7 linked regions of the Homo sapiens genome follow. The protein of the gene in region 5 purifies or fractionates together with the protein of the main gene of each other region. This does not show direct contact. Each region holds a gene or a part of one and is shown on either strand. Other genes may lie near its edges. The genes, in order: LMBR1, NPEPPS, SLC44A1, ABCB9, LRRC8B, ADCK2 and SLC25A17.

Region 1 (3,500 bases), on a different chromosome or scaffold from region 5:
ATTTCACAGGAGCAAAGGAGACCACACTAAGGTCAGGGTTTCCTTGAGAGAGGCGACAAGAAAGACTGAAAAATGTCACAGCTTGGAATCTGATTGCTTAAATACATCCTCTATTCTAGTCTTATAAGCTTTTCAGCTGGTAAATCAAAATCCTGTTATACACTAGGATAATATTCATGACAATTCCCTATATTTTATCTTCTTAAAATCAAAGACTCAATTCTAAAGGGTTAATAGAGGAATTACAAAGTAACTCTCTAGTTTGCATTTCCCATAATGCTAAAATAAAGCTTTTTCTTTTAGTCTAGAAATTTGCTTTTTTAATACTGTGAAAAGCCTCTATGAATCTGTTTAACGTATTTATTTCTTTTCATCTATTCAATGCCACTGGGCATAACATGTAATGCAGTGCGTGTTGATATTTTGCAAAGCACCACATGACTCACTGTACCCTAATGCACTCCATTAATCCTGTTTGGACAGCTGGGTCCAGGCATTTGTTAGCTGCATTTTAATTGTTCCATCTTTCTTTTTTTTCTTTTTATTTATCTCTATGGCAAACTACTCTGGAATTTAATTTGTTGGCCTTCAAAAAGTAAATTTTACCATTAGTTTGTTTTCTTTGTGTTAAAACTATACTCAGCATGTAATTTTCTTCCATAAAATCGGTATATATTAATGATTAGCAATCAATCTTAAATAATAGTACAGTGAATGAGTTTCCTAAGTATTAAAATGATAGGTTGGCTGAAATATAACAGAAATTATTTAATAGACTGTCATAATATAAATGATAACATTTAACATCAAATCAGGTTGCTAAAGAGCATACTTTTGGCATTTTCAAGATTCACATAAGCAGATGTCAAAACAATTACAAGTCCTATAAAGCAAACACAAAAGAAATAAGACTATTACACACACCAGTTTTTTATTAGCTTATGGAACAGTGGTCCCTTTACATTTATACTTTTTGTTTTCTATTACAAACATGAAATCCTTTGTAAGAATTATGAAGATAACTACAAAGCTTCTACTTTCTTTGCACAGCCTGCATCCCTGGTATCTGTAAGTCTTCAATAAATAATGGAGGCAATATGAGAGCTAATGCAAAAGCAACTCAAAGTTACCAGCAATTTTTGTTATGAGCAAGTAGCTAAAATTTAATGATCAAAATTTTCCAATCATTCGTGTGCACTCTTAAGTCAAAACCTAAGTCTAGAGAATTAGATAGAAATGCTTAATGGAAACTTTTGTCTGAAATAATATTTAGTGAAGAACTCAGAATATGGTCTACAATAGCATTTTATAAAAGACAACTAAGGGAAGACTTACTCAACTATTTCAATGACAAAGCAAAAATCTGTTTTTCTTTTAAAAGATTATCAAATTCTCCGTAAACTGAAACAATAAGAAAATGACAGAAATGAATGACAGGCAAGTAGGAACTCTCAAGGGTGTCCTTTGAATCAGAGTGTGTTCTCAGAGATTACACTGCGTTCACCTCTATTTTGTGGACACAAAGCAGCTTAAAATAATTTACAAATTTTCAATTTTTTAAACCATACTAAATTATAAACGCTCAAAAGCTTTTAAATAGAAAAATTAGTTTAATGCAGTTTCCTCACTAGAGGACTCGAAAGCCTAACTTATAGATGTGTCAGTAAAAACAAAATACAACAAAAACCAGCCCGTTGTTTGGAGAAAGAATGCTTTTAAGTGTTTAAAAAATAAGTAGTCATTATTTGATAAAAGTATTTGTCTTGGTATGCCCCTATACATAAAGTATAGAAGTAAAAGTGTAAAATAATGTAGGAAGAAACACTGTATTTCAAAGGTAATCTTTATGAGTAAATGTTAAATAAGTTCAGTAAAGACAGTTTTTAAAAACATGGATCTTTAAGTGAAAATTTCTCACTGAAACTTACCCAGTGTTCTCGACATCACAGGCAGAGCAGAGCTCAAAACCAAGATGGACACACAATTTCCAATGATCTGTTATGAGAAACGAGAAAGAATATTGGGCAGTTAAACAGCAGGATGACAATCAAACCCAGTAACATTCTGAGAAATGATTGTGCATTCTAGTTACCTAGTGTACTTTGCCGATTTCTTAATGATACTATTCAGTACAGAATTTTCAAAGAATAACACACTTTTAAAATAAATAAAGTTATATCTGTAAGTTCTAGAAGATGTTTACAGTACCTAGCACAGATATAGTTATAGAATACTTAAATTACTTGACACCTAGATAATGCACTTTACATTACTGATTGCAGCTGTTACTTTCAAAAGGCTCTGCCTGTCAAGCAAAAAATAATTAACATATTGGATACTTCTGACTACATTTTTAAGGCCAGATTATTGCTTAAGATCTCTTTTATCACATCTATTTCTAATGTTAATTGTAAGATTTAAAAAGCACCAGAAATCCAAAACCTCTAAACTTTTGTAATAATGCATCCCATGTTTATTCTTCCATAGTAAATAAGAGGAGTTGAAAATATCAATTAATATTTATGATCACTTAAACTAGATACTAAATATCTCAACTACTTATTAAGTTTAAAGAAATAGCTGTGTGTGTGTGTGTGTGTGTGTGTGTGTGTGTGTGTGTGTGTAAAATAACTTCTCCCCTTTAAGTAGGCTAAAAATATAAAATAAAAACAAAACAAGCTTTCAGCTCTTATTAGTTATTCTTCTTTGTCAGCCTACGGGAATATTTTATAAAGATTCAGTCACTATATACGGCAACAGCCTTTTTATTCTGAACCCAATGACATGTTGTGGAAAAAGTCAAATTAGCCTCAGACTACAAAATGTTTCTGAATAGAACTCTTCCGTCTTACTTTAATTATTCAAATTTGAAATACTTTGTCCCTACTACTTGTAGCAACTAAGTTCTTCAGACTTCAAACAAGCTCCCTGAAGTACAGTTAGCACAATCCAAGTTACTCATTAGCAATACGTTTTCTTTAGAGGAAAAAGAGTCCTTTCAGGAGCCTTCTATAGCTAGTTAACAAGCTCTGCAGTTCTCCGCATTTACAGTGAATGGACGCCATCCAAATTAAACAGGGTACATCCCTTTCCCACTCACTCAGCATTTTGAAAATCTTCCAGTTTGTGTTTACGCAACTTACAAACAAATACCTATCACTGCAAATGAACCATTCAGAATGACTATTAAATAAAGCAGTCTGTCAGGGAAGGCAAACGAGAGGCCACAGTCACCTAAGATTCTACCTTACCTTTGTCATAGTTGTGTCATCTTTCTTGGGAGTAAAGTTTCCAAAAAATCGAAGGCTATAGAAGCCGACAACAGAGGACACCATAAGATAGCTGTGAGAATCAAGGAAAAAAACTCTCCAACAGAATGCAAGTTTCCTAAGTTCTCGGCAGTCTCCAAAAAGTCTTAAGGCCCATAGGAAAAGCAAAACAAAAAGCCGCTTTAAGTGCTTGAGGAAGACTAACCTGTTGTTTTCTCTTCTAGACAAGTG
Region 2 (3,500 bases), on a different chromosome or scaffold from region 5:
GCTTGAACTCGGGAAGCGGAGGAGCGGAGGTTGCGGTGAGCTGAGATCACGCCATTGCACTCCAGCCGGGGTGACACAGCGAGACCCTGTCTTTAAAAAAAAAAAAAAAGTTGACTAATCTGAATGGAAATATTTCTAAAATACATTATCTTTTTATGCTTTGCAATTCCTCATAGTGTAGGTTTGTTTCATTGTTTTTTTTAAATACTGAACTTTATTTTGAACATCTCTCATTGACCCCAAACTATGTACTATAATTTATCAGTTTCATATCTGTTTTTTTTTTTCTTTTTTTTTTCTTTTTGAGACGGAGTTTCGCTCTGTTGCCCAGGCTGGAGTGCAGTGGCACAATCTCGGCTCACTGCAACCTCCGCCTCCCAGGTTCAGGCAGTTCTCCTGCTTCAGCCTCCCTAGTAGCTGGGATTACAGGCATGCACCACCACGCCTGGCTAATTTTGTATTTTTAGTAGAGACAGGGTTTCACCATGTTGGCCAGGCTGGTCTTGAACTCCTGACCTCAGGTGATCTGCCTGCCTCCGCCTGCCAAAGTGCTGGGATTACAAGTGTGAGCCACCGCGCCTAGCCATATCTGTTCTTTTTTTTTTTTTTTTTTTTTTTGAGACAGAGTCTCACTCTGTTGCCTAGGCCAGGCTGGAGTGTGCAGTGGTGCGATCTCGGCTCACTGCAACCTCCACTTCCCTAGTTCAAGGGATTCTTCTGCCTCAGCCTCCCTAGTAGCTAGGATTACAGGTGCATGCCACCACACCTGGCTAATTTTTGTATTTTTCTAGAGACCAGGTTTCGCCATGTTAGCTAGGCTGGTCTCAAACACCCGACCTCAGGTGATCCGCCTGCCTCTGCCTCCTAAAGTGCTGGGATTACAGGCATGAACCACCGCGCCTAGTCCATATCTGTTTTCTTTTTTTTTTTTTTTTTTTTGGAGACAGAGTCTTGCTCTGTCGCCAAGGCCGGAGTGCAGTGGCGTGATCTCAGCTCACTGCAACCTCCGCCTCCCGGGTTTAAGCGATTCTCCTGCCTCATCCTCCCAAGTAGCTGGGACTACAGGCACCTGCCATCATGCCAGGCTAATTTTTGAATTTTTAGTAGAGAAGGGGTTTCACCATATTGGCCAGGCTGGTCTCGAACTCCTGACCTTGTGATCCACCCGCCTCGGCCTCCCAAAGTGCTGGGATTACAGGCCTGAGCCACCGCACCCGGCCAGCCTGTATCTGTTCTTTAAAGTTGTTTTGTTTTCCTTACTCTCATGTTCTTCTTGCTGCTTATTGTGCCTTGTTGCTGCCTGTTGTGCAATTTCTTCCCTCTTGTATTTTACTGAACTTCATCTGAAGAAGCCTTAGTAGCCAGATAAACAAGCTTGTTTGGGCTAAAAAATCAATTGCTGTGTGAGAGTTTGTTGGATTCTCTTCTGAGTAAAGGGTATGCGTTTTATTGTACGGACTTTGTATCACCTATTTTGGCTTTTCATCTAGGCCTTTTTTTTTTTTTTTTCTTTTTTCTTTTTAGCCTCCTGGTTCTAGATACAACTGATACTCTGATACAACCTGGGTAAATGTGGTCTTGAGTAGTAAATTATCTGTGAAGCTTCTCCGAACTTTGCCACATAAATGAGCCTGCTCTTATTGTGAAGTAAATCTTACTCTAATCTGTATGTGAGTCAGTGGGAAATATCTGAGCCTTCGGATGGCTTTTGTTAACTGAGATTAGTTCTCTAGATTTTAGTGATTTCGTTTTGAACACCATACAAGTATGTGGTCCTTGGTTTATTTGGTCACTTGTAATCTCTTTAAAATTTTATTTTAAATTAGGAAATATTTTAGAAATACAAGAAAGTCACACACTATGAGATTAAACAGATGTTAACGTTTTGCCCCATTTTCATCAGACTGTGCATGCTTTTTTTGGGGGGGGAATAAAATGTCACAGATATCACTAAAGCCCATTTCCATCTCGTCCCACCCTGCCTCTAGAAGTAACTTCTTTCTTCAGGTAGGTGCGTATTATTCCTTTTTATTCCTATGTATAGTTTAAAACTTTAATTGCATATTAGTAGCCACAAACATCACATACCAATATTCTGTGCCTTTTGCATTTTTACATTAATGGTAATTATTTTTGACCTTCTGCAAGTGGCTCTTTTCAATGTTTCTTGTTAGAAAACTTGGCTCAACTTGAGTTTACTAATTATCTGCTTCTTCTTGTCTTTAGCTATTATAGAACTGTTCCACCAAGGCAACAATTATTGCTATTTTAATGGTGAAATCAGTTTTATTAGGCAAATTGACTCAGGCTTCAGACTGGCATTTGGAATTGTCACACTGGAGATTTTCTTTTACTGAAATCTCAGGACATTGACAATCAGAAAAAAACCCTCTTGAGTCTTACTATCTTACATGTAAGATATGTTCCTGAGTGACTGTAGTAAAGACTCATTCAGGAAAATGTTATCTCCGATTTCTGCCTCCCTATCTCATAGGAAACTTCCATTGTAAAGTTGTTACCAGGCGTCAAGCTGCCTCTTTGGTACAGCCCTTACTTAGTATTTGGCTCAGTTGAAGTGCAGTCTATATAGGAGGCCAAGAAGACTTAATCCTGGGTTTGAAACAAAGCAAGGATACACTAACATTCTATCCTTTAATAACATCAAGTAGAAAAATTGAAAATGAGCTTGTTATCAGTGCACTTTTATATGCCAACCTTGTTTCACTTGTGTTTTAAACTGGGAAACTGAAGATTTTAATGCTGAAATTTCTTTGAATTATTACCTGTTTTTTTGATAGTGGAACACACAGCTAATATTTACTAACATGAAGGTGTCAAAGGTGGGAAATCATGTACTACACCATCAGGTCAGCACTACTGTTTGGAAGAGCAGCATCACAATGAGCAGTGTTATACTGCGTTGTAGTCAGCACATACACTTATGTCCAAACAGATATTTTAAATTACCTTCTTGGGGTAGTACACATGTGCTGATATCCAAAGTGCCATATAATACAATACATAGTTTTTAAACTTCATATCATTCTGATCAGAAGCTTTATAAACTGTTAGGTGAATGCTGTTAGATGATATGAGAGCACAATTTAACCTGTGTGTGTGTATGTGTATGTCTTAACATCTATTAAGTGATGACTACATATGAAGCACTAAGTGCTAAAACAGAGACTTTACATAGATTATCCCATTATTGGTCAACTTTTTAAATAAGTGCATCTCTAATATAAGACAAGATGCTGACCAATTTTTAAAATGTGAATGGATTTCTATTTTTAAGATAAGTACCTTTGTTCCTTTGGTTCCTCCCTCCCACCCTTCCAGAAATGGTAGTATCCTGGAAAAAAAAAATTAGTAACAATTCAAGAAACAGCTTAATTCATTAGTATAAATAGATGAGTTTCCCTTAAACACAGGAGGAGTTGGAAGGTACTTGTAATTGGATGTTGTGCATGGTGCCTTTCCAAAATGCACAAATACTTTCT
Region 3 (3,500 bases), on a different chromosome or scaffold from region 5:
TTTTTTAACTTCAGCTTTTCTCCTATAATTCATTTCTGTATGTAGGAAACATATTTTCTTCCATTTTCTGAATATATTAAACATTTTTCCAGACAATTTTCTTGTGCCTGCAAGACTTCAAAATGGAAACATTCCCTTGCTCTAAAATGTTTTTCACCAATTTCTGGTAGTTTTGATTTGTTTCCTCCTCTTCAACAGATGGAAAATTTGTACTTGGTATTTGCCAACAAATAGGTAATGGAATTTGCCTTTGATCTCATTAACTCTTGAGTGCAGATGTTGATGTACATCGACTTTGCTTCAGTTTTTTATATCCCAGACATTTATCATATCAGCCACACACACACATGTCTCTACTCTGAATCATCCATTTTTTCACTGTGACCTACAAGGCCTTACAGTGTGGTCTGGTCCGCAGCTACCTCTCTGCCCACATCTCTACCACTTTCCGCATTGCTCATTGCAGTAGCCACAATGGTCTTCTTTCTCTCATACTAGGCATGGTTCTACCTCAGTCTCTTTGAACTTTGCCTGGGACACTCTTTCCTTAGATAGTGTCATAGATTGCTCTCTGTCTTTGATTCCATTGCTCAGATATCATCTTACTAATACCAGTGAGGCCTTGCTTACCCATCTTATATAAAATTGCAAAGCTTTCCCTACCCAGACACTCTATATCCTTCTTACCAGGAGATCATTTTTTCTTTAGACTTAATATACTGTATTTTTCCTTGTTTTCTTATTTTTTTGTTTCCCTATTATTATATAAGTTCCATGAACAGCAAGAGTAAGAACTTGGCTTTGTTTACTGTTCTATCTCCAGCTAGAACAATAGGTGCTGTAGCATTCAAAATGCTGAATGGGTTGAAAGTAGGTATATAAGTCAGCTCTCATATGTGGAGGTAGGTTTGTCTCCCTCTTCAGTCTGGTTCTTTGAATCTCTCAACCGGTGTTGGAGATTTAAAAATGCTTATCCCTAGCACCCACCACTATCAGAGATTTCCTCTTTGTTCCTCCCTTTGGTGGGAACTGTTCTTTTGATTTGCATTTATTCATTGTACAAATACTTAATCAACTGCATTACTGTGTCAGTGCAAGTCACAGAGGTATCTGTGATGAGTACAACAGAGAAGATCCTTGCCCTCTTTAAGCTTCATTGATGTTTTCTGTGATGCTTATTTCCTTCCTCCAGCCTCCTCAGCTTAAATGCTGAGGCTCTTTCTTTGTGGTCAATTCCTGTCAGGGGTGTATGTTTCTACTGGCTCGCTCTTAGCTTCATAGTCAATAATAAATACATTTGAAGGAAGCTTATTTGATACACTGAAGGATTTATAAATGCTTAATGTGGAGGATGATAATAGAGCAATGGACACTTTCTTTATGCTGGCAAAAAGTTATAGCTATGTACTTCCCAGCCAAATGGATTGTCACTGCATTAGTCCCATGATGATCTGTAGGAAGGGTCAAGAAAATTGAGAATTTATGTTACACATTTTCTTATCCTAATTATTGCATTAACAGTTGGGTCTTTTGTCTCCAGGAGGCACAGGTGTACTATGGTGGCTGTATGCAAAGCAAAGAAGGTCTCCCAAAGAAACTGTTACTCCTGAGCAGCTTCAGATAGCTGAAGACAATCTTCGGGCCCTCCTCATTTATGCCATTTCAGCTACAGTGTTCACAGTGAGTTTAGGCTTTGGCGTGTCTTTCGGTTTTGTGTTTTTGTTTGCAGGAGATCATTAATGGAGCAGAAACTCAAATCTAGCTTTTGCATTCCTAACCCTGATCTCCAGTAGATAATATCTCTGTGCCATAGTGTATGAAACACTAAAAAGTCTCTTGAAGGCTTCCCTCATGGATGAGTGCTATTTGATGAAACATTTTTTCTACCCTGTCTGCTTTTTGAGAGAGGATTTTCACCTAGAATATTTACATTACCATTTGCTTACAAGAACATATTTCTTATTGTCATAAGATAATTACTTTTTAAAAATGGTTCCCTTTACTGTAGAAAAGTATGTTAAAAAATATATCATTCCATTTACTTGTTTGCTAATTATCTTCCCATTTGTCTTTCAAACTTTTCATTTAACTTTATGGCGTTATTTCAAAAATATAGGTGTGGTCAGGTACAGTGGCTTATGCCTATAATGCAAGCACTTTGGGAGACTGAAGTGGGAGGATCACTTGAGCCCACGAGTTCTAGACCAACCTGGGCAAGATAGTGAGACCCTGTCTTCACAAAAAATTAAAATCAGCTGAGCATGCTGGTGTGCACCTGTGGTCCCAGCTACTCGGGAGGCAGAGGTGGGAGGGTCACCTGAGCCATGATTGTGTCACTGCATTACAGCCTAGGCAACTGAGTGAGACCTTGTCTCCAAAATATATATGTGTGTTTGTGTGTGCGTGTGTGTGCGCGCGCGCGCGTGTGTGTGTGTGTGTGTGAGATTTGCTGCTTAGGTATTAAGCAATAAAATTACCAATTAACATGTGGTTAAATAATTTATATGTATACCTTTGGTTCATCATCGTCTTCTCTCTGAAAAAAGAAAAAAAATCAGTCTACTTCTAAGAGCAATCCCAAGCTTTTTATTGAGCATCAGAAACAAAAAATAAAGCCATCATAAAACCATTGGTGCCAAAAGATATTTGTTAGTTATTGTTATACAGATATTACAACAAAATATGAATGAAATCTCATTTTAGGTACAATTTGCTGTGCCAGCTGCTGAAGATGGGATGTGGGGGTGGGAGGAGGCAAAGGGTGAATCTGACACAGATCCCACTTTTAAGGAGCTGTTGGTCTAATAAGGAAGATACAAATAAAAACCTCGTTTTTGTGGTGTATCTGTTTAAATAAATAAAGAGTCTCATCCTGACTGACAGTATGTTTTGGTTCATAATGAGTGGCAAAGGGAAAAGGAAAAAAATTCTAGAATGTATTAATAAGTTGAGAAATCCTTTTATGTTTTGCTTTAAAGGTCACTTGGTAACCATAATATAAAATTGACAATAAATATTGCAAGAGAGATACTTACTGATAAAGTATTATTGAAATTCAAAGAATGCTACCTCCAGGTTTGGGGCTGAAGGGTTATGTTAAAAATTTCTACTATTTTCGGTTTCTGTTTTCACTACTTATAATAATAACTGAAACCATTCTCTCCATACAGGTGATCTTATTCCTGATAATGTTGGTTATGCGCAAACGTGTTGCTCTTACCATCGCCTTGTTCCACGTAGCTGGCAAGGTCTTCATTCACTTGCCACTGCTAGTCTTCCAACCCTTCTGGACTTTCTTTGCTCTTGTCTTGTTTTGGGTGTACTGGATCATGACACTTCTTTTTCTTGGCACTACCGGTAAGAAGATAAGCTTCTTTCTCTTAGTGACAAACGTGATTTGCATTCCAGTATTTTAGAACATCAGAGAGAGGTAATTCTTCAGACATTTGTTGATGAAGGTCCAATAGCCATCAGAACTTGTAGTGGTTATGGCTCCTCAA
Region 4 (3,486 bases), on a different chromosome or scaffold from region 5:
GCCTCTCATGCTCCATGCTCCCTCCTCCCCAGATCTCCCTGGTGAGCCAGGAGCCCGTGCTGTTCGCCCGCTCCATCACGGATAACATCTCCTACGGCCTGCCCACTGTGCCTTTCGAGATGGTGGTGGAGGCCGCACAGAAGGCCAATGCCCACGGCTTCATCATGGAACTCCAGGACGGCTACAGCACAGGTGTGGAGCTGGGGGTGGCCCCTCTCCTGGGCCCACAGGGTCACCCTCAGGGACATAACCCTCTGAGTTAAGCACTGCCCCCTGCCACCTGCTCTTTTTTTTGTAGAGATGGGGTCCCGCTACGTTACCCTGGCCAGACTCGAACCTCCTGCGCTCAAGCAATCTTCCTGCAATCCCCAAAGTGCTGGGATTACAGGCATGAGCCACTGTGCTGTGACTCAGCAAAATATTTATTAAGTAAATTATTATAGAAGCCCATACACTGGAATATTATGCTGCTGGGAAAAAGAGGAAGTAGAAGAAGGGGGAGGAGGTGGAGGCGGAGGAGGAGGTGGAGGCAGAGGAGGAGGCAGCTCTCCATATAGCAGTATGGAAAGGTCACTGAGATAGGATGCTGAGTGAGAAGAGCCAGGTGCAGAGCATAAGGAGCTGGGTTTTTTTTTTCCTATTAAAGGACTGGGGAGATAAAAATAACATGTTCATATTTGCATAAAGAAACTAGACAAGGACATGTAAGCAACTAATGAAAGACGTTTTGGTGGGAGCAGGAGGGAACTGAAGAAAGAACTTAAACTTTTCATTATTTAGAGTTTTATATATTTTTAGTTTTTTTAGTTTTTTTTTTTTTTTTGAGGCAGGGGCTTGCTCTGTCACCCAGGTGGGAGTGCAGTGGCGTGATCACGGCTCACTGCAGCCTCAACCTCTTGGGCTCAAGCCATCCTTCCACCCCACTTTTTATTTTTGTTGTAGAGACGGGGTCTTGCTATGTTTCCCAGGCTGGTCTCAAATTCCTGGGCTCATGCAATCCTCCTGCCTCCCAAAGTGCTGGGATTACAGGCATGAGCCATTGTATCCAGCCTGTATTTTTAGATTTTTGAACCACACGAATAGCCCCTTTTCAATAATTAAATATATACAATGTATAGGGGGGTTGGGGAGATGTTGATCAAAAGATAAAAATTTTCCCTTAGGAATAAGGTCAAGAGACCTGTTGACTATAGTTTTTTGTTTGTTTGTGTTTTAATTGAGACAGTCTCACTCTGTCGCCCAGGCTGGAGTAGAGTGGAGTAATCTTGCCTCACTGCAACCTCCGTCTCCCAGGTTCAAGCGATTCTCCTGCCTCAGCCTCCTGAGTAGCTGGGATTACAAGTGCCCACCACCACACCTTGCTAATTTTTTTTTGTATTGTTAGTAGAGACGGGGTTTCACTATTTTGGCCAGGCTGGTCTTGAACTCCTGACCTCAGGTGATCTGCCTGCCTTGGCTTCCCAAAGTGGTGGGATTTCAGGTGTGAGCCACTGTGTCTGGCCAGCTATATTTAGTAACAGTGTACTGTGTACTTGAAAATAGCTAAGAGAGTAGATTTTAAGTGTTCTCTCTTTAAAAAAGTGATAAATATGTGAGATAATGTATATGTTAACTGGCTTGATTTAGCTATTCCACAGTGTATATGTATTTCAGAGCATCACGTTGTACACCATTAAATACAAACTATTTTTACTTGTCAATTTAAAAGAATTTTTAAATTAAAATATACTAAATACACTAATTTTTAAAAAAATTACCTCGATATGAACTTAAGTAGTTCTAGTAATTAATTGATATAATAAATATATATTATTTTAGAATAGTGTTTTGAAATTCAGTAGAGGTGGTGGTTGTGCAACATTGTGAATGCACTAAATGCCACTGGATTATTCACTTTTTTTTTTTTTCTTGAGATGGAGTCTCGCTCTGTCGCCCAGGCTGGAGTGCAGTGGCGCGATCTCGGCTCACGGCAACCTCTTCCTCCCGGGTTCAAGTGATTCTCTTGCCTCGGCCTCCCGAGTAGCTGGGATTACAGGCATGTGCCACCATACCCGGCTAATTTTGTGTATTTTTAGTAGAGACAGGGTTTCACCATATTAGCCAGGATGGTCTCAATCTCCTGACCTTGTGACCCGCCCACCTTGGTTGGCCTCCCAAAGTGCTGGGAGCCACCGTGCTCAGCCCGGATTATTCACTTTACAATGGTTATGTTTATGTTATGTCAGTTTCATCTCAATGAAAGAAAAATGAAATAATAAAGAACTGGTGGCGTGGCCAGGTGCAGTGGCTCACGTCTGTAATCCCAGCACTTTGGAGGCCAAGGCAAGAGGATCGCTTGAGGCCAGGGGTTTGAGAACAGCTTGGGCAATGTAGTGAGACCCCACCTCTACAGAAAAATATTTTAAGTTAGCCAGGTGTGGTGGCATGCACCTGTAGTCTCAGTTACTCAGAAGGCTGAGGCTGGAGGATTGCTTGAACCCAGAAGTTTGAGGCTACAGTAAGCAGTGATTGTACTACTGCACTCTAGCGTGGGTGAGAGAGTGAGACCCTGTCTCTAAAATAATAATAATTGATTGACTCAATTTCCTATTGATGGACATTTGAGTCTATTTGTTTTATTTTTTGCAATAACAGCGCTGTGGGTCACAGGTGACCTGTGTCTATATTGTTGTGCATGGGAGGAAGTCGGTCCATGGGGAAAATTGGTCCAGGTGGGCTTGCGGGGCCACAGGCCACACATCTGTGGTGAATACACACAACCTTTGCACTGCACAGACTCATAGACCCAGGGTTATTGCTGCAGCTCTTCAAGCCATGGGGCTCGCTCCAACTCCCCTTCTCCAGGAGGACGGGTGAGGGCCTGTCTCCCTGCAGCCTCACCTGCACTGTGTGCTATCAGATGTTTGGGTTTCTGCCAAATGAATGAGTGAAAATTGGTAACTTGCTATCAATTTGCATGTAGGCTTAATCTGCATGCCCCTTATGAGTTGGGTGGGGGGAACATCATTTCATGAGCTTTCAAGTTGTGGGTTCCAGCCCGCCCTTTCCACAGCTGCAGGGCAGGGCCTCTCACTCTTCCCCGGTGCTGCCCGGCCTCACCCATTGCTAAATTGTCTCTGTGCCTCCACCATACAGAGACAGGGGAGAAGGGCGCCCAGCTGTCAGGTGGCCAGAAGCAGCGGGTGGCCATGGCCCGGGCTCTGGTGCGGAACCCCCCAGTCCTCATCCTGGATGAAGCCACCAGCGCTTTGGATGCCGAGAGCGAGTATCTGGTGAGTCACAGGGTGGTGGGCAATGCGGGGGCAGGAGCGGCTCCAGGTGGCCAGAGCCCCCATCGCCCAGCAGATGGATGCTGAGAAGAGACGGGCCCCAGGAGCTCTCCCAGACTATCAGCCTCCTGGGCTGGTGAATTCCTGGTGTTGAGAGTGGGGAGCCAGGAGCCACTCTGGACCCAGCCTCCAGGCTCCAGGCAGAGCTGTATGGTGT
Region 5 (3,500 bases):
CCTGCCTCGTGAGATCACAATACTGAAACCCAATGCTCAGTTACAGGTTAAAGATAAAATGGGCAAAAAACCAACCAGGAGCTGTTGTTTCTAAACCGTTTCCTACAGAGGAACACGGGCAATCGATGATATTCAGCTGAAATAATAGATGACTAGGTGAGCCCGAGAATTTATCTTTACATTTTTGCGCAACAACCTCACAGGTGAAAGAATAGTGGATTTGTTCCCAAGGTAGAACCAGGTAGATGGAAGCTTTAGAAAATCACATTTTGATTCAATCTGTGGTGGAAAGTCATCGAACTAGCTGCTCTGTGAAACAGTTCAGCTCTATGTCCTGAGCAGAATCTTGATAAATAAAATGACCATCCATCAGGAGAGTTGCAAAGGAATTTCTTGTAATGGATAAAAAGAGTGAAGCAGATAATTTCAAAGGGTTCTTTCAGCTCTAAATTCATGTTTCATTTGTCCTCTCAAAGGTCCTGAGAATTAAATTCATTTAAGATATGCAACTGAAATTGTAGAAGAATGAAAACAACAATAGCTCTAACAATGATAAGGGTATTTGACAGAGTGAATATTTATTCAATAAAAATACAAGTCAACATTGACCAAAAAAAGTGTTTTAAATATTTATACTTACTACAGTGAAAAAAATTAAATAAATCCAATATGCTTCAGTCAGGAGGTCTACACCTTTTGAAGTTTCTTAGACACACCATCTCTGTGTTTGTCTTCATTCTATGAGAAAACATAGATATCTTGAAATAGCTACAGTCATTCAAACAAACAAACTGGAGATACTGTCTCCAGAAGCCCTCTCAGTCATAAGACATGACATGGCAAATAGATTTTCACACTCTGGGCCTCAAGCAATCCTTCCACCTTGGCCTCTCAAATGCTGGGATTACAGGTGTGAGCCACTGTGCCTGGCTTAGATTTTCATAGGTCAGTTTACTTTTCACACTGGGGCACATTCTGGCAAAGGTGTATCTACAGGGCCCCACTCACATTCATTAAACCATACTCACTCCCTGAACTTCCTTTCAATTACAGGTTAGTTCCCACAGCAATTTAAACACAACATATTTTAAAATTCTGTGTCTACAACACTTAGATGAACACAGCTTTTCTAAGTAGTCGACATATGTTAATTTCTCTCACTCATTCCTCAAACACAGTCGTTCTTATTTGCATTTTTCAGACAGCTTGTCACACCAAGTGATTTCTGTACCCATATTTAAAACCAAACATCTATCCAAATAAGTCTCAGTGCTCCTAAAATTTAGCCTACCAATCTCATTAGAAAAAGTGATAAGTTAATATACTTTTTCAGATACAGCTCAGAAATATGGCTGAAATTACTTGAAATTATGTTATTATTAAACATACTTAGGCTTTATATTAGATTTGTTTAATTTAGAGTTTAATAAAAGCCATTTGTAACATTTATAGTTCAATAATTTGTGATAGTTAAATTACATATATATTGATAATTTGAACTGTGAGAAAATTGTAAAATGCTAGAATTTGTTTTTAATTGAAAGTAAAAATTATATCTTTTAGTGCCTATGAAACCTCAAAAAAAAAGTTTCTAGGGAGATTTTGTATTATACAATCCTTTTTAAAAAGTACTTCAAATCTTCCTAAGAGTACTGACCCCAAATTGTATTTAAGATACTTTTAGCAATAATCTTTTAAGCTTGTCATTTCAAATATCAAAAATTTGGGCATGTCCAAAACTTACTTTGGGTTTACCAAGTCATGTGCAAAGCCTATTTTACAATTAGTCACCATCCAGCATCAAATTGTTTTGCAGGTTAGAAAGCACAGTTAGTATGTATAAGAACCTAGCTGTACACTAATTCATAACTACAGGGCACAACTGGAGTAAGATTTCTCATTCACAATTCACAAGCCTTTATAAAAGTCTTACAACATATATCACATGACTGCATTTATGTGCACTGAGCATGATAAAGACATCTGATGTGTGAAACATTTTACATATTCTTCCATAGCGGCTGCATTTGTAACATGCCAGAAAAGAATTTATTGCATAATTCAAAAATGTTACTCAGCCATGATTCTTCTTATACAGTTCTCCTTAAATATTAGAAATATACTTTCTACTTTATTAATAATTTAACATCTGTTTTTCTACCTTCAAAGCATGTCTCATTTACATTAATTTGTTTTATACTTAAAACAAGCCATTGAAATAAATAGTATTACTCTTTATGTTTATATGCATAGAAATTAAGGCAGTCCCAAAGAATTAACCTTGCCCAAGGTGACAAAACCTCTAAGAAATAAAGTTGCAACTGGAACTTAGGTCCTCATACTCAAATCCCAACCTCATGCACACCAGACCACATGGCCTCAGTCAATCCAATTAACTACGCCACAGTCTTAGGTCTCTCAAAAGCTGAAGAAAAAGCTAATTAGCGCTCTTTCCCAACTCATCCAATATCTGCATTATAACTGGGTTATAACTGCATTATAACTGGGTTTGAATAAGGATGCAAATGTAGTTTTCTGTAATGTCTTCCGTTACATATAATCTACTTTCTCAGCTAAACATTTTCCTACTAAATATTTTCTACTGAACTAAAACTTAATATTTAAATATATAGCATCTGGATTTAAGTATATATAAAACATCTCAGCATTCCTATGTATAAAATGATGATAATTTTCCTATTTGAAGTGCTTAACTAGAGAGTTTAAGCATAGCTATCTTTTGTCATTATGCCATTTAATACTGTCTGTCCAGGAAATTGTTTCCAGACCATATTTTAGTAAACAATGATGATTCAATCCAAATAAAATATCTATTTCTAATATACAAACACACTAAATCAATCCAAAGAAATGTTAAGAGTAATGGATTTTACGGTTCTAATCCCATTATTTCAGCTTTTAAACCTCATTAAGAAGTCATAAAAGCTTTTTCAAAACACATGAATTCACTTGACAATCTTACTCCAAAGTCTCTAAGACTGTAACATCAACATTCAAGTTAGGCATCTTTACTTCCCAGTAGTCCTTATTTTACTTTGAAAGCATTTCTAAAATAACAAGTGAAAAAATAAACAAATGATGATCAGATGGTATTTAGTGTCATTATATACTGAGAAGAGGACGCTACTTCAAAGATCTGTCTCTGACCCCAGGCAGGGATTATAGCCGAACAATTCCAAATAGCGGTTCTCTACACTACTCTCATTGAAAATTGATTTAAAAATCACCTTATATCCCTTCAAAATGTTTAGTGCTACTTCCCATTAAGATGTTTCTTGGGACTAACATATATCTAACTGAAATTTAAATTCGCCTTTTGTTGAGTTCTCTCTCTAGGAAACAATGCATCAGTATCTCTGATTAATATGCCCCTTTTCTTTATGCTAAGTAACTCATTTCACCATTCTTGAGAGATTTAATGACAAGCATTAAACATATTTCAAGTGCTTAAATGATCACCGGCAATAACATTTGATATA
Region 6 (4,228 bases), on a different chromosome or scaffold from region 5:
TATTCAGCCAGTAAGGGCAGGATATTTGTGTCCGCTTTCCCAGGGTCCAGCACATGACCTAGCTTGATCAGTACATATTATTGAGCCTCGACAAATATGAGATTGGGCTCAAGAAATATTTATTGGGCTCAGTGAGTATTATTGAATGAATGAATATGGCCTTTCCGGAGCCTTTCCCCAAGGTCCAACACAATTGCCGAATTAATGCAGCCGAGGACACAGCATCCAGTTCCTACTCCTGCAGCCCAGTTACCCCCATCCAACACCACCCCCCTACCCAACCCCCGCTGAAAAGCGGACCTGTGTTCAGAACCTGCCTTCATACTTTTCAGCCATGCTCTTTGGAATAATGAAAGATACGAAGAAGTCAGTGGGAAGATAGACATGGGGAGGGGGACATAGAGGGTGCCTTTGCGTTTTGCTACCCAGGACCCAGGACTCAAGGGCAGGGTGGTCTTGGCCTGGGGTCGCCGTCCTCTTTAAGGGGCGGGTCAAGGGACCCTGGCTGCCCGGGCCTCTGCCACCGACCCTCTGCTCCCTCCGACCCTCACCGCCCAGCACCCAGCCCTCTGCCCCCACCGGCCACCCTGTAACAGCCCAGCGGGTTCACCTTGCCTGCTGCCTAGACAGAGCCGATTTATCAAGACAGGGGCATTGCAATAGAGAAGGAGTAATTCACACAGATCAGGCTGCGCGGGACACTGGGCAGAGTTTTTAAGGACAACTTGGTGGGTGGGGGAAGGCCAGTGAGTCGAGAGTGCTGATTGGTTGGGTCGGAGGTGAAATCTTAGGGAACTGAAGCTGTCCTCTTGTGCTGAGTTAGTTCCGGAGTGGGGGCCTAAGATCAGATGACCTGGTTTATCGATCTGGTAGGTGTCAGTTGATCCATCAAGTGCAGGGTCTGCAAAATATCTTGAGCACTGATCTTATTAGCAGTTTAGGGAGGGTCAGAATACTGTAGCCTTGCTGCCTGACTCCTAAATCATACTTTCTAATCTTTTGGTTAATTTGTTAGTCCTACAAAGACAGTCTATTCCCCAGGCAAGAAGGAGGTTTGTTTTCAGAAAGGGCTGTTATCATCTTTGTTTTAAACTATAAAGTATAAACTAAGTTCCTCCCAAAGTTAGTTCAGCCAACGCCCAGGAATGAACAAGGACAGCTTGGAGGTTAGAAGCAAGATGGAGTTGGTTAGGTCAGATCTCTTTCATTATCTGTTATAATTTTGCAATGGCGGTTTCAACCTAGTGGCCGAACCCGTCCCATCCATCTCCCGCGCCCCTCCGCTCCACCACAGCCCTCGGTGCCTCGGTTCCCTGCACCTGCACTCCCGCCCGCCCCCGACGCTCCGCCCCCGACGCTCCGCCCGCCCTCCACGCTCCGCCCCGCCCTCCCGGCCCCCGCCTGCGCCCGCGCCCTGGGCTGGTGCCCGCCACCCCAGCGATCTCATACTGGCCCCTGGGCGCACGGTGACCCTGCGGCTGCCCGGCCCCTGCCTCCGCCCGCGCGGCCCCCTCGCTCAGGTCGCGGGCGCCCGGGGCCTGGCTTCGCGTGGGTCCTGGCTCCTCCCGTTCCGCAGTTGGTGCCGTCTGACAGCCCCTTCCGCGCGGCGCGGCGCGGCGCGGCGGGTGTCGGGCGGGGCGCGGGCCTCCGGCCTGAGGCCCGGCGAGGTGCTGGAGGGAGCGGGGCGCGGATCCGGCCCAGATGGGCAGCTCCGTCCGCGGGGTCAGGGCCGGGCTTCGGCTTCACCGCAGCCTCGCCTGAGCGGGCGCCTCTGAAGTGGAGGGCGGGCCGCCTGGGCCGCGGGCCTCGGGAGGATGGTGGCGCCCTGGCGCGTCTCCGTCAGGGTTTGCCTGTCGCACCTGAGGTGCTTCGAGCTCAGACAGGGACTCAGCCTCCTGAGGCCCTCCGAGTGCCCTCGCGATGCCAGGCTCTGCTGGCTTCTGCTGGGCACTTTGCCCAAGGTCGTCTCCCTGTGCGGGGACGTGGGTGAGGGGGCCCCTGACGTTCTGAGTCGGCGAAGGGTCCGCTGCAGCGGGGCGGCTGGCGCGGGGCCCGCGGAGAGCCTCCCCCGAGCGGGACCTCTGGGCGGCGTCTTCCTGCATCTCCGCCTCTGGCTTCGCGCCGGCGCTCTGTTGGTGAAATTCTTCCCCCTCCTACTCCTCTACCCCCTCACCTACCTGGCTCCCAGCGTCTCCACCCTCTGGCTCCACCTGCTTCTGAAAGCCACCGAGACCTCAGGCCCAACCTACATCAAACTGGGCCAGTGGGCCAGCACCCGGCGCGATCTGTTTTCGGAGGCTTTCTGTGCCCAATTTTCCAAGCTGCATGTCCGAGTGACGCCCCACCCGTGGACTCACACTGAGCGCTTCCTTCGGCAGGCTTTTGGGGATGACTGGGGGAGCATCCTCTCTTTTGAGAACCGGGAACCTGTGGGCTCAGGCTGCGTGGCCCAGGTGTACAAAGCATACGCCAACACTGCCTTCCTGGAGACTGACAGCGTCCAGAGACTTGGCAGGGCCTCCTGTCTGCCGCCCTTCTCACATACTGGGGCAGTCGGTGGGCTGAGAGAGCTCTTTGGATACCTTGGAAATGGCCGGAAACCTCCAGAAAATCTCGCAGACCAGTCGTTTCTAGAAAGGCTGCTCCTCCCTAAAGCTGACCTGGTTGGATCAAATGCAGGGGTGTCTCGGGCTCAGGTCCCTGGCCACCAACCTGAGGCCACCAACCTCATCTCCGTGGCAGTGAAAGTAAGTGTTGTGAGAGCTCACAGCTCACCTACCCACTGAGCTATCCCAGATCAGAAACAACCGCCATGCAAATCGCCCCCACGTTTATTTCTATTTGCCTGACCAATATCTGAGTGCTTATTTCATGCAAGCTGTTTCATTTATTGGCTTGAAGTGGCGGTGTGAATAGTCTGATAGAGGAAAATGAACTGAGTCTGGAGTGAACTAACTGCTTGGGTGTCGGGACCACATCCTCTTTTCTTTGATAAGAAGCCACCTGGCTCTTGCTTGGATGGTGGGACCCAGCCCTGGCTGGGTAAAATGTGTCCAGCAGGTTTCTCCTGTCTCACGGTTCCTCTTTCTGACAGGTGTTGCACCCTGGCCTGCTCGCTCAGGTGCATATGGACCTGCTGCTGATGAAGATTGGCAGCCGAGTCCTGGGAGTTTTGCCAGGCATCAAGTGGCTTAGCTTGCCTGAGATTGTGGAGGAATTTGAGAAGCTGATGGTCCAACAGGTGAGTTCTCCTCCCCTCAGCTGTAAATAGCACCTAACATAGTTCTTGCCATTAGCTGCTACTTAGTAAATGTTGAATGAATAATTTTCTGGTATGTCATAACTCATGTGATGTGTTAGAGCTGGTAACACTAGCTGATAAAGAACATCCAAATCTCAGTGGCTTAATGCAACAAATTAATTTTTTGCTTATATCAAAGTTCTGGCCGGGCGTGGTGGCTCATGTGTGTAATCCTAGGACTTTGGGAGGCTCAGGCAGGTGGATCACTTGAGGCCAGGAGTTCGAGATCAGCCTGGCCAACATGGTGTAACCCTGTCTCTACTGAAAATACAAAAATTAGCTGGGCGTGGTGCTGCATGCCTGTAATCCCAGCTACTCAGGAAGCTGAGGCATGAGAATTGCTTGAACCCAAGATGGAGGTTGCAGTGAGATGACATCATGCCACTGCACTCCAGCCTGGCGACAGAGTGAGACTCCATCTCAAAAGAAAAATAAAAACAAAAAACAAAGTTCTATGCAGGTGAACTGAGGCAGAGAAAGGGAGCTCTTTATTTTATTATTTTAAAAACAGAGACAGGGTCTTGCCATTGTTGTCCAGGCTGATTTTGAACTCCTGGGCTCAAGCCATTCTCCCTCCTCGGCCTTCCAAAGTGCTGAGATGACAGAACTAAGCCACCGTACGGTCAAGAGAGGGAGCTCTACTCCCTAGTTTCAGGGGACTCAATTTCTTCCCAAGTTTGGCACTGCCTCCTTCAACATGTGTCATCTGGGGTCAGTGTGGATTGGAGGCAGAGGCCATGCAGGGTCATGTAATAAATTTTGTGGCCAGGCCTGGAAGTGGCAAACATCACTTCTTTCCTGTTCACTGATCAGAGCTGTAACTGCCTGGGCCCAGTGTAACTGTGAGCTTGGGAAATACAGTCTTCCTTTGTGACAAGGAAATGATTCTGGTGGAGAACATCTAGCATTATTTCTGCCATAATCAAT
Region 7 (3,500 bases), on a different chromosome or scaffold from region 5:
CACTCCAGCCTGGGTGACAGAGCGAGACTCCGTCTCAAAAAAAAAAAAAGGAAGAAATGTTTTCTGTCGTCTTTTCCTTTGGAAATTAGGAATTAAATTAGACTGCTTTATGGTTCATGAGTAACAGATGAAGGGCAAGGGATCTGCAGTGGGAATTTAGCACATGGTCACACAGGGGCATCATTTAGTTCTGGGGCAACCTAGGGAGCTCAAAGGTGAGGTAAATGGCATTTCAGTGAAACTTGCTGATGTTAACAATTATAATCCTCAAAGGATTTAGTTTAAACATACACGGGCCGGGTATGGTGGCTCACGCCTGTAATCCCAGCACTTTGGGAGGCTGAGGCATGAGGATCCCTTGAGCCCACAAGTTTGAGACCAGCCTGGGTAACATAGTGAGACTCCGTCTCTAAAAATATTAAAAAATAGGCGGGGCACGGTGGCTCATGCCTATAATCCCAGCACTTTGGGAGGCCGAGGTGGGCAGATCACTTGAGGTCAGGAGTTCAAGACCAGCCTGGCCAAAATTGCGAAACCCCGCCTCTACTAAAATACAAAAATTAGCTGGGCATGGTGGTGTGCACCTGTAATCCCAGCTACTTGGGAGGCTGCAACAGGAGAATCGCTTGAACCCAGGAGGTGGAGGTTGCAGTGAGCTGAGATCACGCCACTGCACTCCAGCCTGGGCGACAGAGTGAGACTCTGTCTCAAAAAAAAAATTTTTTTTTTAATTAATAAAATAAACATGCACTGTTTGGTCTTGTAGTTGATGAGAAAAGAAAATCCAAAACTACACACATGGTGCTCCTGGAGATCATTAAAGAAGAAGGACTGTGAGTACTACCTCAGTTCACCTTCGTTAAAGCAACTTGTTAGGAGATTCCTGTGCTTCCAGTAGAGTTATGCTTACTTTCTATCTTTCTCACAGCACTCTAATGTTGTGAATTTGGAATTGCCTGATTTATAAGTACATAATTGTTTTCAGTTTCTTAAAGATCTGTAGTGAGGCATTTGATTCTTTTTATTTATTTTTGTACAATGCTTACCTTAAGCCATTTGATTCTTGATCATGGAGTCTTCCATGAAACTAAAATGCATTGTTTTATATACAGTAAACTGAAAAAAAAATAATAGTTGTTTAGTTCATTCCTGTCAGGTGCATTAAGACAGATTATGTACTTCTTGTTTTAGCTTTTTATTGGAAATAATTTTAAATTTACAAAAATTTGCAAAACTAAACTTAGTACAAAGAAGACAAGTATATGCTTTACCCAGATTCATCTGTTAACATCTTTTCCTGTTTGTTTTACTATTTTTGCTCATGCTGTCTCTCTCCCACCTCCCTTCTCTCCTTACACACACCACACACAAATTTCCTCTGAATTATTTGAGAGTAAGTTACATACATCAAAGCCTTTTAGCCCCATGACACTGACACTTTTAAACAATACAGTCCGCCTGTAATCCTAGCACTTTGGGAGGCCGAGGCAGGCGGATCACCTGAGGTCAGGAGTTCGAGACAGCCTGACCAACATGGAGAAACCCCGTCTTTACTAAAAATACAAAATTAGCCGGGCGTGGTAGCGCATGCCTACAATCCCAGCTACTAAGGAGGCTGAAGCAGGAGAATCACGTGAACCCAGGAGGTGGAGGTTGCGGTGAGCCGAGATCGCGCCATTGCACTCCAGCCTGGGCAACAAGAGCAAAACTCCGTTTCAAAAAAAAAAAGAAAATAGAAAGTTTCTCATTTTTAAGTTTGCCTCACATTTCCTCATGATTCCATTGAGGTTATACATTATTGGCCTGAATAATGCACAGGTGATATTGTGTCCTTCTCAAGATATCACATCTTGACTCACATATTGTCTGCCTGCCTTTGGTTGGCTAATTATGATTTCTTAAATTTGATTTAGCCACTGTGCAATTACTTTTTTCTTCCCTTGCAACTATAAGCAGTCTATGTGGAGATACTTCAAAACAATACAAATATCCTGTGCTTTATCAACATTTTTCCCCTAAATTTACCACGAAGTTGCAAAATGACGACTTTCCAACTCCAGCATTGCCTCTACAGGTACCAATGTTGGCATTCTGCTATAAGCAGGACCTCCCCTTCTCCTTCATTTATTTATCTACTTATTATTGGTATAGGCTCAGAAATGTCTATTTTTCAATGGTTTACAATTGATTACTGTACTTCATTATTTTGGTATTCAAATTGCCCCAGATTTGGCCTGTAGGAGCTCCTGTGAGCTCCTGTGCCCTTGTGAATTCCCCCATCTTTTTTTTTTTTGATACTTATTTCCTATAATTACTTCATTTTAACTGTTCTTGCCCTGTAATAAAACATGAATGGTACTCTATTAACTAACAGCCATGAGGAAGTTGTCTCTAATTTTATATACCAATGTTACTAAAGAAAATTAAGGGAGGGAATTAATAAATCAATCAGACTTTGTGTTGTTTCTTTGGTATCATTAGTGCTAGAATAGATTTCTTGATTTGGACATCCTTCAGAATGTGAGGTGTGTGTACAGTTTGGAGTCCCTTGTATTCGTGTAGGAGTGAAGCTTGAGACCATGTGAATGATGGTCAGCCTTTCCTAGGATTTCTCTGCCAATTTCTAATTTGTCCATGACCTTTACTTTGCTTATTGTGTTTTTCCCCTAGCCTGGCACCATATCGAGGGTGGTTTCCAGTGATTTCCAGTCTCTGCTGCTCCAATTTTGTCTATTTCTACACTTTTAATAGCCTCAAAGCACTCTGGGTCAAAGGTCAACATTCTACCACTGGAAAAGATCTGGTAGTTGGGTTTGTTGCAGGTAACAAGGTTTTCTGGGTATAAAATGTTTTTATATTTACCTTGTGGTTTTATATCCTCTAAGAGGTTATTTAGCCCAAAGTAATGCTTACAAAGAATATAGCCAGTTTTCCAACTTGGTTTTTTTTTTTTTAATTGTGTTAAAAAACGTGACATAAAATTTACCATGTTAATTTTAAGTGTAAGGTCAGTAGTGTTAAACATGTTCACAATGTTATGAAACAAATCTCCAGTACTTTTGCATATTGCAGACCTGATTCTATTCTCATTAAACTCCCCTTTTCCCTTTCCCTGAGCCCCTTAGTAACCACCATTCTACTTTCGGTTTCTAAGAATTTGACTACTTTAGATACTTGATATAAGTCGAATCATACACTACTTGTTTTTTTTGTGACTGGCTTACTTCACTTAGTATAATGTCTTCTACTTTCATCCATGCCATACAGCATGTGACATGACTTCCTTACTTTTTTATGACTGAATAATATTCCATTATATGTATATATCACATTCTGTTTATCCATTCATCTGTTAATAGGCACTTAAGTTGCTTCCATCTTTTGGCTGTTGTGAATAGTGCTATGAAAATGGATGTGTAGCTCTCTCTTTGAGAGCCTGCTTTCCATTCTTCTGGATATATACCCAGAAGTGGGATTGCTGGATCATTTGGAATTCTGTT

What was found.
Region 1: the proteins of LRRC8B (region 5) and LMBR1 purify together in Homo sapiens (affinity purification with mass spectrometry; 2 studies listed by BioGRID and IntAct, with this or other methods). This does not show direct contact.
Region 2: the proteins of LRRC8B (region 5) and NPEPPS purify together in Homo sapiens (affinity purification with mass spectrometry; one large-scale study listed by BioGRID and IntAct). This does not show direct contact.
Region 3: the proteins of LRRC8B (region 5) and SLC44A1 purify together in Homo sapiens (affinity purification with mass spectrometry; 2 studies listed by BioGRID and IntAct, with this or other methods). This does not show direct contact.
Region 4: the proteins of LRRC8B (region 5) and ABCB9 purify together in Homo sapiens (affinity purification with mass spectrometry; 2 studies listed by BioGRID and IntAct, with this or other methods). This does not show direct contact.
Region 6: the proteins of LRRC8B (region 5) and ADCK2 purify together in Homo sapiens (affinity purification with mass spectrometry; 2 studies listed by BioGRID and IntAct, with this or other methods). This does not show direct contact.
Region 7: the proteins of LRRC8B (region 5) and SLC25A17 purify together in Homo sapiens (affinity purification with mass spectrometry; 2 studies listed by BioGRID and IntAct, with this or other methods). This does not show direct contact.

What each region holds. Positions count from the first base shown.
Region 1 is NC_000007.14:156,722,184-156,725,683, forward strand, and holds part of LMBR1 (limb region 1 protein homolog), read right to left. Parts: intron 3,343-3,500; coding exon 3,252-3,342; intron 1,996-3,251; coding exon 1,929-1,995; intron 1-1,928. UniProt on the Homo sapiens protein: Putative membrane receptor.
Region 2 is NC_000017.11:47,537,608-47,541,107, forward strand, and holds part of NPEPPS (puromycin-sensitive aminopeptidase), read left to right. Parts: intron 1-3,500. UniProt on the Homo sapiens protein: Aminopeptidase with broad substrate specificity for several peptides. Involved in proteolytic events essential for cell growth and viability. May act as regulator of neuropeptide activity.
Region 3 is NC_000009.12:105,359,651-105,363,150, forward strand, and holds part of SLC44A1 (choline transporter-like protein 1), read left to right. Parts: intron 1-1,540; coding exon 1,541-1,680; intron 1,681-3,170; coding exon 3,171-3,357; intron 3,358-3,500.
Region 4 is NC_000012.12:122,931,978-122,935,463, reverse strand, and holds part of ABCB9 (ABC-type oligopeptide transporter ABCB9), read left to right. Parts: intron 1-32; coding exon 33-192; intron 193-3,135; coding exon 3,136-3,272; intron 3,273-3,486. UniProt on the Homo sapiens protein: ATP-dependent low-affinity peptide transporter which translocates a broad spectrum of peptides from the cytosol to the lysosomal lumen for degradation.
Region 5 is NC_000001.11:89,576,829-89,580,328, reverse strand, and holds part of LRRC8B (volume-regulated anion channel subunit LRRC8B), read right to left. Parts: intron 739-3,500; 5' UTR 738-738; coding exon of another isoform or gene 675-737; 5' UTR 641-674; intron 1-640. Other genes in the region: uncharacterized LOC128092251, read right to left, coding at 675-737. UniProt on the Homo sapiens protein: Non-essential component of the volume-regulated anion channel (VRAC, also named VSOAC channel), an anion channel required to maintain a constant cell volume in response to extracellular or intracellular osmotic changes.
Region 6 is NC_000007.14:140,671,517-140,675,744, forward strand, and holds the start of ADCK2 (uncharacterized aarF domain-containing protein kinase 2), read left to right. Parts: upstream 1-1,428; 5' UTR 1,429-1,814; coding exon 1,815-2,747; intron 2,748-3,094; coding exon 3,095-3,241; intron 3,242-4,228. UniProt on the Homo sapiens protein: The function of this protein is not yet clear. It is not known if it has protein kinase activity and what type of substrate it would phosphorylate (Ser, Thr or Tyr).
Region 7 is NC_000022.11:40,791,847-40,795,346, reverse strand, and holds part of SLC25A17 (peroxisomal membrane protein PMP34), read left to right. Parts: intron 1-766; coding exon 767-833; intron 834-2,670; coding exon 2,671-2,822; intron 2,823-3,500.